Linked DNA regions of Homo sapiens: region 2 is linked to region 1. The links come from fine-mapping of genetic effects on gene expression. Tissue or cell type: lung. Region 1 holds a variant in brackets; the other region holds the start of a gene. All regions are shown on one strand. Distances are between the middles of the regions.

Region 1 (5,380 bases):
TTATTGAATTATTTAAAAGATAAATTTATTGTTTATTTTAGTAAATGCAAAATATTAAGACGAAATCTCTCTGGAATTCCAAAAGCCAATATTCTAGCTTTCATAAGAGCGGGATTAGTTTTTACCACTTTACTCCAAATAAATACGCCATGAATACTAGTTGGGATGGAAAATAAGCAAACTTAAGAAGACATAAAAACTAATTGCTTTTTGTTTCATTTTTGAGATGGCGGTCTCACTCTGTTGCCCAAGCTGGAGTGCTGTGACCAATCATAGCTCACTTCAGGCTTAAACTCCTGGGCTCAAGTGATTCTCCTGCCTTAGCCTACCAAGCTTTTAATATATTTTTTAAGAGATGGGGATCTCACTATGTTGTCCAAGCTGGTCTTGAATGCCAAGCAATCCTCCTACCTCAGCCTCCTGAGTAGCTGGGATTACAGGTTTGAGCCACTGCACCTGGCCCAAAAATTGCTTTAAAAAATATATATAGTAACTTGATTATAGGCCATAAGTAATCATTTAACAGATAAAAACTTTTAAAGTTTTTAAGTAAATTAGGTTCCTATTTTATACTCTATAGTATATTCAAGGCATGAGCTTACTTTTGGAATATAAATATAAATAAAATGATAATTCACAAATTGCTAATTGCTCTTCCCTGCTAGGTCTTTGAACAAAATGCACATGGCATTTTAGGTTAATTGCTTAAGATAGTCTCAATTTGAAACCCCATATTGATAGCTCTGTGATCATTTAAATTCAGAATATCTTTTTTAAATTATGTATATTTTCATCATCTACTTAAGGGTCAAATGTTGTTTTTGAGCTTAAAAAGTATCATTCCTAATTGAAATAAATTTTAATGGCTGTGATTCCAGTGGTCTTTAAAAGTGCATTAAAAGTAATTTGTGGTCTTGGCTTAATTTGTTGGCTTTTTAAAATCTTTTAAGCCTTTTTAAAAAAATTGTAGTAATTCCATATGGTGTTAAAATATGCAAAGGTTATACAGGAATTCATACATAAATTATGTACCCATCTTCACTCTTCACTTTTCTTTGCCAAATAAATTATTACTTGAGTTTCCTGCTATCACAGGATACATATAATTTCACAAAACATACAATATACAATGTTAGGGAACTAGAACTTGATGACTTCAGATGCACAGGCATATTTGAATTGCTAAGTTTTTAAACTAATGTGGTCTTCAGAAGGGCTGTATTTGACTTGGCAGGCCCCTATGTATAAACTTCTGGGTTTGCAAGACAGTCCTACCATTTTGATACCATGAGTCAGGCCTGTCTTTTTTTAATGTGTTGTATTGACTCAACACCAGAGTTATATTTACAGCAGAACTGTTGATTAGAATAAAATGTGGATGGTGTATCGGTTAGAATAGTTTCACCTACAAATAACAGAAAGCCCAACTCAAACTAGCCTAAACAATCAGGTATTAATTGGCTTCTCGTCTAGAAGAGAGACTGGAAATATTTTACTTCTGGAAGAAGAGAAGGAGGGCAGGTGATTTTATTCTGTGGTTCTAGCTCATTTCTCTGTTCTTAATAGAAGCTTCATGTTCAGGGTAGTAGCAAAACAGCTATAGAAGGATCCTGACAATGTTCGAAGAAGAGGGTCACACTGAGAATCTCTCTCATTACAATGATGAATGCTTCTCAAAGAATCCTTTGAAAATCCACCCTAATATTATTAATTGGGTCACACATCATCTTCTGTACCAATCACTGGCTCTAGGAATGAACTTAGCCTTAGATACAGCAAAGTCATCCCTGGATCCAGCAGTGAAGTCAGGTCCTCCTTAGGCCCATGTGAGGTGTGAGACAGTAGAAGATACCTGCATAAGGCCTGGATATTGTTAGATGAAGGAAAATAATGAATGCCAGTAGAGAGCAGAAATGTCTATGTCAAATGGTGATTGGTGGTCACATGTAAAATGTAGCCCTCCAAAAATCAAAAGCAATACTCTTCCATACATAAAGGATTTTTATTCTGTAGCTGTAGAATGACTCAGAGTTGGGAGACTTTTTGCAATTCCATCTTTCAAGTTCATGGGGTGCTTTTAAACTTTTTTTGAAAGGGGATACATACCAGGTCAGTCATTCTGTAGCAACTATTTTTTAAATCAGTCTGTAACTTTGGAAATGGTATCAAACATTCCATTTGTTTCCCCTATTTGTTACTGTGCATTTCAAAGTATATATTTGCTAACCTTTATTCAACCAAACTTTAACAAGCACTTCCTATATTTAATGCATAATACTGGGCGTTTTTAAATACATCTATTATACATGTTTGACACATGTATGATTCATGTTAAATTGGTAGAGGAGGTGGAGTTTAAGATGGATATGCTGAGCTACTTGCTAATAGGAATGAGTGATTTATTGTCGCAAAATAAGAGATATTCAAATTGTTGTTACATTACATCTTCTATTTATATTATATTTTGATTTTGTCCCTAGACTAGCTACATTTAAGCATCCTACTAGTAGTATTCATACTTCACTTGTCACTTGATTTGTGTGACCTTAATTGATGTTTATACAACCCATTATATGATTAGAGATCATCCTCATAAACATCTAGAAGAAATTCTTAAGCTCTGTAAACCTACTTCCTCATTTATAAAATGGAAAGAAAATCTACCTTACTGAATGTGGGAAAGTTTAAATGAGATGAGGTGTGTAAAATCTTAGGGCCATGTCTGACATAAAGTATTCCCTCAACAGGCCAGGTGCGGTGGCTCACGCCTGTAATCCCAGCACTTTGGGAGGCTGAGGTGGGCTGATCACAAGGTCAGGAGTTAGAGACCAGCCTAACCAACATGGTGAAACCTTGTCTCTACTAAAAATACAAAAATTAGCCAGGTGTGGTGGCGCATACCTGTAATCCCAGCTATGCAGGAGGCTGAGGAAGGAGAATCATTTGAACCTGGGAGGCAGAGGTTGCAGTGAGCCAAGATTGCACCACTGCACTCCACCCTGGGTGACAGAGCAAGACTCTGTCACAAAAAAAATAAATAAATAAAAAATAAAAAGTGTTCCCTCAATAAAAGATAAGCAACTTTTGGGAAATGCCTATTGATG[C/G]AGACTCCCAATTAAAGAAGTTAACATTCTAAGGGTAGGAGGCATATAAATGCAAGTCCTTTAATTTCATAGTACTGTATTACAGAATTACTGTAATTACTGTGTGTGTGTGTGTGTGTGTGTGTGTGTGTGTGAGTGTGTGTGTTTATTAACGGCAAGAGTAAAGAATATGGAGACTGGTATAGTCTAGTTTAAATTTCCAAAAGTACCAAAAGCATAGGCTAGAAATCTCTTTGTAAATTTTCTGACACTAAACAAATGTTGTCTGTAGCTAGTATGACCTGCTCCAAAAACTCAGAGAATGAAACAATTGTACATATTTCTTATTTTATCCTAATCATTCAATCAAAAAAATCTTTTTAATAGATAGCCCAGCATACCCTCTTAAACTCTACCCCATCTTTTCCCTTACCCTGACCTTCTTTTCCCATTTACAGAGAACCTTCAGGGATCGTTCAATCCTGAATTGGTCAATCCTTGCCCAGAGACCAGGGGGAAAGGGAAGTGAGGTCCAGTCAGCCTACTATCACCAGTTTTTCATTGCCACGTGTCACTGTTGAAACTTGGTCTTGTCAGTTCCTCAGACCCTTTCTGGGCTGGTCCAAGCCTCTGCTCTGGCTTCAGGGATTCCTCTCACTTGGATTCCTGGAGTTCTCTTTGTTCACAATGTCTTGTTCAGTCATTATTCCCCAAAAACTTGATACTACATCTGGGCCGCTGGAGGCCGAGAGGCTTCTTGCTTAAATAACAAGCTATGTCACACCAGTCCTTCCCCATAACAACACCTGGAATCTTAAGTTTAGCCTGGATTGTCCAAGGCCATCCACTTTCTTAAAAAAACAAACAAACAAACAAAAAGAAAACTTTGTACCTAGGCATGCTATTGTCCTTTTTTGTTGCCACGTGTTGGTCAGAATCATCCTAGTCTTCCCTGACAGGTCCCTCTAACTCCAAATTTCTGGACACATGTCTTGGTCCCCATCTCACTGAGCTCCTGGGCTCCTCATGCAAACTACACATCAGGGTTTCTAAAGAATAACAATATGGAATGCCTCCTCATCCTATATTCACATAACTAGGGAAACCACTCTTAGTGGTTTCACATGGCTACTGTGACAAATTAGCAGCAATGTATTGGCTTAAAACAATACAAACTTACTCTCTTACAGTTCTGGAGATCAGAGGTCAGAATTGAGTCTTACAGGGCTAAAATTAATGTGTCTGCCGGTCTGATTCCTTTAAAGAAGGCTCAATTCTTTGCCTCTTCCAACTTTCAGAGGTTTCTGGAAATCCTTGGATCACGGCCATATTCAATTGTTACATGGTCTTCCATTCTATATCCAACCACCACTACGTCCAATCTCCATTTCTAAATTACATCACCTTCTCCTAAATTTAGCCCTCCTATCTCCATCTTATAAGAATGCTTGTGATATTTTAGGATAATCTGGCTAATACAGGATAATGTCCTCATCTCAAAATGCTTACCTTAATCACATCTGCAAAGTGTCTTTTACTACGTAAGGTAACAGGTCCTGGGGACTGGGATGTAGACATCTTTAGGGGCCCACTATTCTGTCAACCACACCACTCAAATAATTCTTTTCACAGCAAAGATTACTTCAGGGAGACCTTCTGTTTTCACCCTAGGCATAGTGGGAAGAAGCAGAATTCAAAGATATGTCTCAATGGGCATTTCCTTTAAATTTCACATTAACCAGCATCCTGATTTGCACTTTCTTAGCCACATGGCAGAGGGAGAAAATGTATCGAATGTATCAAAACTGCAGTTTTTGTATCCAGTAGGTTACTAAATAACATATAATTAGAGGAAACTATGATCAAAGGCATGATTAGAATATAAAATTCAAAATGTGCCCTTTCCATGGTCTATCCTGGGCCTCTCCTACTTATTGCTTGGTCTTCTGAAACCCAGGAATCAGACCATCCCTTACAGGTCTCTGATTGGGTTCAAGCCTGTCTACCTTTGAAGGACAAACTGCTAAGTAGGTTAAACTATTTCAGTTGGGCACCAAAGACATACTACCACGAGTTGTACCGAGCAACATGCCTATCTCAAAGGTTTCGCTGACTTTATATTTATTTATTATTTTTTATTGACAAAAATTCCATATATTTATCATATACAACATGATGTTTTGAAATAATATATACCTTGTGGAATGGCTAAATCAAGCTAATTAACATGTGTGACTTTATATTTTTGTCTTGGCTTTTCTCAGAACAACAACAAAAAAATTTAATGTTAACCAATT
Region 2 (5,380 bases), 23 kb after region 1:
GAACTGTTTGAGACACTTCTGTTCCCCAATCCCTTGTGATATGTTTCTCAGGTAATAGGCCTTCACAGTAACTCCCAAACTATCATATATACCACACAGACTTGAGATTCACTATTGAGAGAATCTATGTACTGTTTTTCTTTTTTTTTCTTTTTTGTTATAGAGCCGGGGGTCTTACACTGTCACTGAGGCTGAAGTGCAATGGCACGATCATGGCTCACTGCAGCCTTGACCTCCTGGGCTCAATCCTCTTGCCTCAGCCTCTCGAATAACTAGGATTACAGGTGTGTTCCCCCATGCCTGGCTAATTTTTAAAAATTTTGTGTAGAGATGGGGTCATGCCATGTGGCCCAGGCTGGTTCAAACTCCTGAGCTCAAGTATCCTTCTACCTCTCCCTCCCAAAGTTCTGAGATTACAGGAATGAGCCACTGTGCCCAGCCTATAGATTGTTTTTCTTGAAGCAATTTTTCAGAAACCTTCCTGGTTTCTGATAATTTAACCCTTTCAGGTTAGGAGAGAAAAATGAACATTTTGATATTACCCACTGTCTTAGTCCATTTGTGTTGCTGTAATAAAATATCACAGACTGGGATATTTATAAACAATAGAAATTAATTTCTCTCAGTTCTGGAGGCTGGAAACTCCAAAATCAAAGTGCCAGCAGATTTGGCAACTGGTGAGGGCTGCTCTTTGCTTACAAAATGGCACCTTGTTGCTGCATCCTCAGCAAGGGTCAGTGCTGTGTCTTCACATAGTGGAAAGAATAGAAGGGGCCAACTGTCTCCTTTGGGCCTTTTTTTAAAAAGGCACTAATGCATTCACAAAGGCAGAGCCCTAATGGTCTAATCACCACTTAAAGGCACCTCCTCTTAATACTGTTGAATTAGGGATTAAGTTTCAACATGAATTTTGGAGGGAATACAAACATTGAAATGATTATACGTGTTTATTTAATCAAGTATCCAACAAAAGCAAATAATTCAAGCCCCAAATTCACTGCATCTTTAGTAGATAAGCAGAGTTTTAAATTACGATTGATCTCCTGTTAGGAGGAATGCATGGATTTCCACAAGAAAAAACTGTACTGAGGAGAAACTTTCCACAGTAATGTGCCACTTTTCAGTCAACGACAGACCACATATATGAGTCCCATAAGATAATACTATATTTTTACTGTACCTTTTCTATGTTTAGATATGTTTAGACACACAAATATCATTGCATTACAATTGCCTACAGTATTCAGTACAGTAATATGCTGTATAGATTTGTGGTCTAGGAGCAATAGCCTAAGTGTGTAGTAGGCTGAGCCATCTATTTTGTGTTAGTACACTGTGATGTTCAGAGAAGGATGAAATTGCCTAAGGATACATTTCTCAGAATGTATCCTGTTGTTCGGTGACGCATGACTGTATTCCATGAGCACTATAATCACTATCATAGTAACACATTAGGAGAGAATTCTCATTTCTAAATCCAATATAATTTATCACCCATTAGTTCATACTCTACTGCTTTGATTGCTTTTCTTTGGTTGTGGCTACCTGCATACAGCAGTAAAGTTTCAGAAAAACTGAAGTCGCAAAAGGTCAATTACTCAATGAAGGAAAGATAAACCATTGCATTGGGGGACTAGAAGATACTTTTAAAAGTTCTCAGATTATCAATTTAATGATGTGTTTCTATGTAGTGAATAATGCCTTAAATTCTTGCCAAGAGTATTTAGAAGGAAGTTGTCAGAAGTATATCAGCTAACTCATTTTTTTTTATATCACTGCTAATGGTGTCATTCACACATTGTGCAACCCATAATTCCAGATTTAATTCTACCAAAAAATATAGGTCATTGCAAAATGCCATATTAAAACTGCCAATGCATGACAGGAAGATGGGGATGCAGACAAAGCAAAGGATGACACCAATTCCTTTTTTAAAGAAGCAAGATAGGGATTGGACAAAAAGGCTGAGCCATTTTTAATGGATACTTTTGAGGGAGTGTTAATTCCAATTTAATTAAAATGATGCATTAATTTAAAATTGGGATAACTGGTTGCCCTCGACTGCACCTGGGTTGCGCCAGTGCTCTCGGATTAACCTAATTGTACAGAGGTGCCCTTGTTTTCTAACTTCATGCACAAAGCATTGGAAATTATTTGTTTGCTTTTTCTTTTCCAAGTAAATCTTTTTCCAGTTATGCATAAGGGAAGTTTGAGGCAATGGTTAAAGGCACTTAAGTTATAATTATTGCTGTTATCATTAACATTAAGCACGGGTATGGCTTTGTTGCAAGTTACCCACCTACACCTGCAAATCTCTCTTGCTAGCACACGCCCCAGCTCTCTCCACCCGCAGTGGTCCGTGGCTGGACCGCTTTAAGTCACTGAGCGGGCTGGGCTCTGAAGGAGGTCGGTCCCGCTCCTCCCAGACCCAAGCGTAGGGCTAGGGAAAAGCTAGGCGGGAAGGTCATTGCACTCCCAGGCCCCAGGAAAAGGGCCCAGGGTCTCATCATCTCTTACTTTCGGGCAAAACTTCCCACATCGCGACCTTCCCTCCCTGGGGCACTCTGAGAACACACCCAGTCACCTAGCGCGCTCCCCAGAAGTCGGCTTGGCACACAGCGCACCCCAGCGGCCGCGCGGCCTCCTTCCAGCCGCCGCCACTTGGCTTCCGGAGAGCTCGCCGGGCGCTGCCGCTGCCGCCGCCGCCGCCGCCTCCTGGGAACCAGGGGACTGAAGAGCCTGCGAGAGCGGAACACTGCCGGACCCCGGGTGGGGGGGGCGCAGCAGCTGCGCCTGGCCCCGCCCACCACACCTGGGCGCCCGTAGAACCGCGCGGGGCGGGGCGGGGCAGGAGGCTGGCCTGGCGCTCCGGCCGCTTTGTCGAAAGCCGGCCCGACTGGAGCAGGACGAAGGGGGAGGGTCTCGAGGCCGAGTCCTGTTCTTCTGAGGGACGGACCCCAGCTGGGGTGGAAAAGCAGTACCAGAGAGCCTCCGAGGCGCGCGGTGCCAACCATGGAGCGGGCCGGCCCCAGCTTCGGGCAGCAGCGACAGCAGCAGCAGCCCCAGCAGCAGAAGCAGCAGCAGAGGGATCAGGACTCGGTCGAAGCATGGCTGGACGATCACTGGGACTTTACCTTCTCATACTTTGTTAGAAAAGCCACCAGGTAAGAAGAGGACCCACGGAAGACCCGGGGCTGATTTCTCTCCCCTGTTGAATTGTGCCCTTCGTTCACCCCTGTTCCCAGGCCCTTTGCTTTTGAAGTAGGTCCTCGGTCCTGTTACGAGGTAGAAACCTCAACTCTAAGCGAGCACAGTCGAAAAACTCAAGTGTCGGATTTGATACAACTTGCTCACAAAGTTCAAATACAAAAATGTACTTGCCGACCTCCCACCCTCACCCCCGACCCTCTTGGTATTCCCCGGGAACATGATTATTTTCATACATCCGTGCTCACGGGCCTTCCCCTAGCCCCTCTCTAGCCCTCTGGTTCCCCAAAATCCAATCAGCAAAACCCAAACAGTTTCTGAGCCCCTTCCCTGCAGCTCCGGAAGCACCATTTCCAAGTCGGTCTTGATGGCTCCGCTCCTCCCCCGTCCCCCCTCGCCCTGGCCCTGGCTGGGCGGGGAAGCTGGGGTGAGGGACGAGTCCACGGGACAGCCCAAAGGCAACATGACGGAACCTTGCCAAAGTGAGTGCGGTTGCCTTTTCCCCCCTTCCAGTCTCCTGCTTGTCCCGCGCGCCTCCTTTCACTCGCTTTTCCGCCGAAGGCTGTGCCGCCAAAAGTAGAGCTCTGCAGAGGGGTTTGCGGCGTGCACACAAAGGGCGCAGGGGAGGCGCCGCCTGGAGCGGACCCCAAGGGGCAGCGCAGACCCCAGAGGCCAGCTCTTTCTGGTCCAGAGCCAAGCGCCGGGGCGGCCCTTGCGGAGGGCGGGGAGGAGGGAGCCTGTCCTTTTGGAGGCGGCTGCGCAGCGGGCAGTCGGGGCGCTCGTGGGAAACGCTCGCGGGAGAGTTGGGGAGGAATTGAGACTGGGAGCAGAGGGACAAGAAGAGTGGAGCAGAGAGTGCTTGGCGGGCGGGTGCCCCGAAGCCTGAGGAATTGATGCATAGTCGGGGTGCGTGGACTCCAGGACGCGCCCCTTTGCAGAAAGAGTCCGTGCCCCGCTGCCGCCTGCTCTGGGCAGCGGCCGTCGGGCAGCGGGTGCTGGCCGTCTTGGCCGGGAGGGTGACACACGCCCGGCAGTGATGGTCGAGGAGCCCGCCCGGGTTCGACGCCCGGGTCCCACTCGCCGGCGCGCGGCCGCGGCTCTGCCGGTCGCTCCCCGCCAGGGGGCGGCGCAGCGCGGGGCGAGCGGGAGGCGACGGGCGGCGGCGCGGAGGCCGGGGCCGTGAGGGAGCTGGTTCTGAGTCGCCGACCTCACCTCACCTCACCTGCGCGCGTTGTTGCCCCTACGGAGCCTCCTGGAGTCCAGGATCGGCGGAGTTCGAAAACGAACTTCCCACGTTTGCTATGTTGCCCTTTGGAGACAAAACAAGGTACTTCCTTCAGCATCCCCCTACGTCCCTTCCCACTTTTTCCGGGGGCGCGGCGGGTCTCGGGTGCTGGGTGGTGGCGCCCCGGTGGCACCAGTGGGACGATGTATCATTGAAAATTGACTGTATAACTTTTGTTGTTGTTGTTATTCTTTGCTCTCTTGCAGATGTATTAATAAGGGTCTTAAATTGGGCCCTTTTTAATCTTGTTTTGTTTTGTTTTGTTTTGTTTTTTTCCTAAGGAACATCCAGAGTTGGTGTCAATTTAGTCACTTTCAGGGTTTTTTGACAGAGGGGAAGGCTCCGGGATTAATCTTTTCAATTTAATAACCCAGCCCTTCTTTTAAAATCGTCTTCCCCCGCTTTCACCTTCTTCCTTCAAAATCCTAAATCTTGAGCGCCCAGAGGATAGCCCTGAAAGGGCACTTTTTTGCGAGTTTAGCGTGAGACACTAAGGCCATGGAGGTCTAGAATGATCGGTTGCTGTCGACTAACAGTTTTCAGGGGTCACCTGCCCCTCTGAGGCCATCTGCACCCACTTTCCTTTCACTCTGCGCATTCCCAGCCTTCTGCTCTCCTTGAATTACAGCGCATAGAATGATCAGGGGGCCAGAGAACCAGGCCGATTTTTAAAAGTATGTATTGGACCTGTTCTTTAGGCAGATTATAAACAGTTTAAAGAAAAAAAGTTATTGTTTAATAAATCAGCATAAATGTCCTTTCTTCGTTCCCTATTTTTCTTTTAAAGATGTAAACTAGGGATGGCTTGTTGGTCGTTTTTGACTAGTCATAGATAGGAACACTGCATTTTCAGAACCTACCAACACTTTGAAAGTGTAGCAACATTTT

What was found. PIP is the estimated chance that this variant, and not a neighbour inherited with it, causes the effect.
Region 2: it holds the start of PDE5A, and the variant in region 1 is fine-mapped to the expression of PDE5A in lung (TOPMed, PIP above 0.99).

The regions. Positions count from the first base shown.
Region 1 is chr4:119,649,051-119,654,430 of GRCh38, reverse strand. No RefSeq gene overlaps it. Among named protein-coding and RNA genes, the nearest start is that of PDE5A, 23 kb to the right of the region's middle. The variant C/G (reference allele first, on the strand shown) is at 3,105.
Region 2 is chr4:119,626,304-119,631,683 of GRCh38, reverse strand. PDE5A (phosphodiesterase 5A) reads left to right here and starts at 2,880. Exons shown (of 21, transcript NM_001083.4): 1 at 2,880-3,164. The coding sequence starts at 3,013. It overlaps LOC107986192 (a long non-coding RNA gene), which reads right to left and starts at 3,894. Exons shown (of 1, transcript NR_165235.1): 1 at 929-3,894. RefSeq lists silencers at 2,547-2,946, 4,167-4,446 and an enhancer at 3,987-4,036.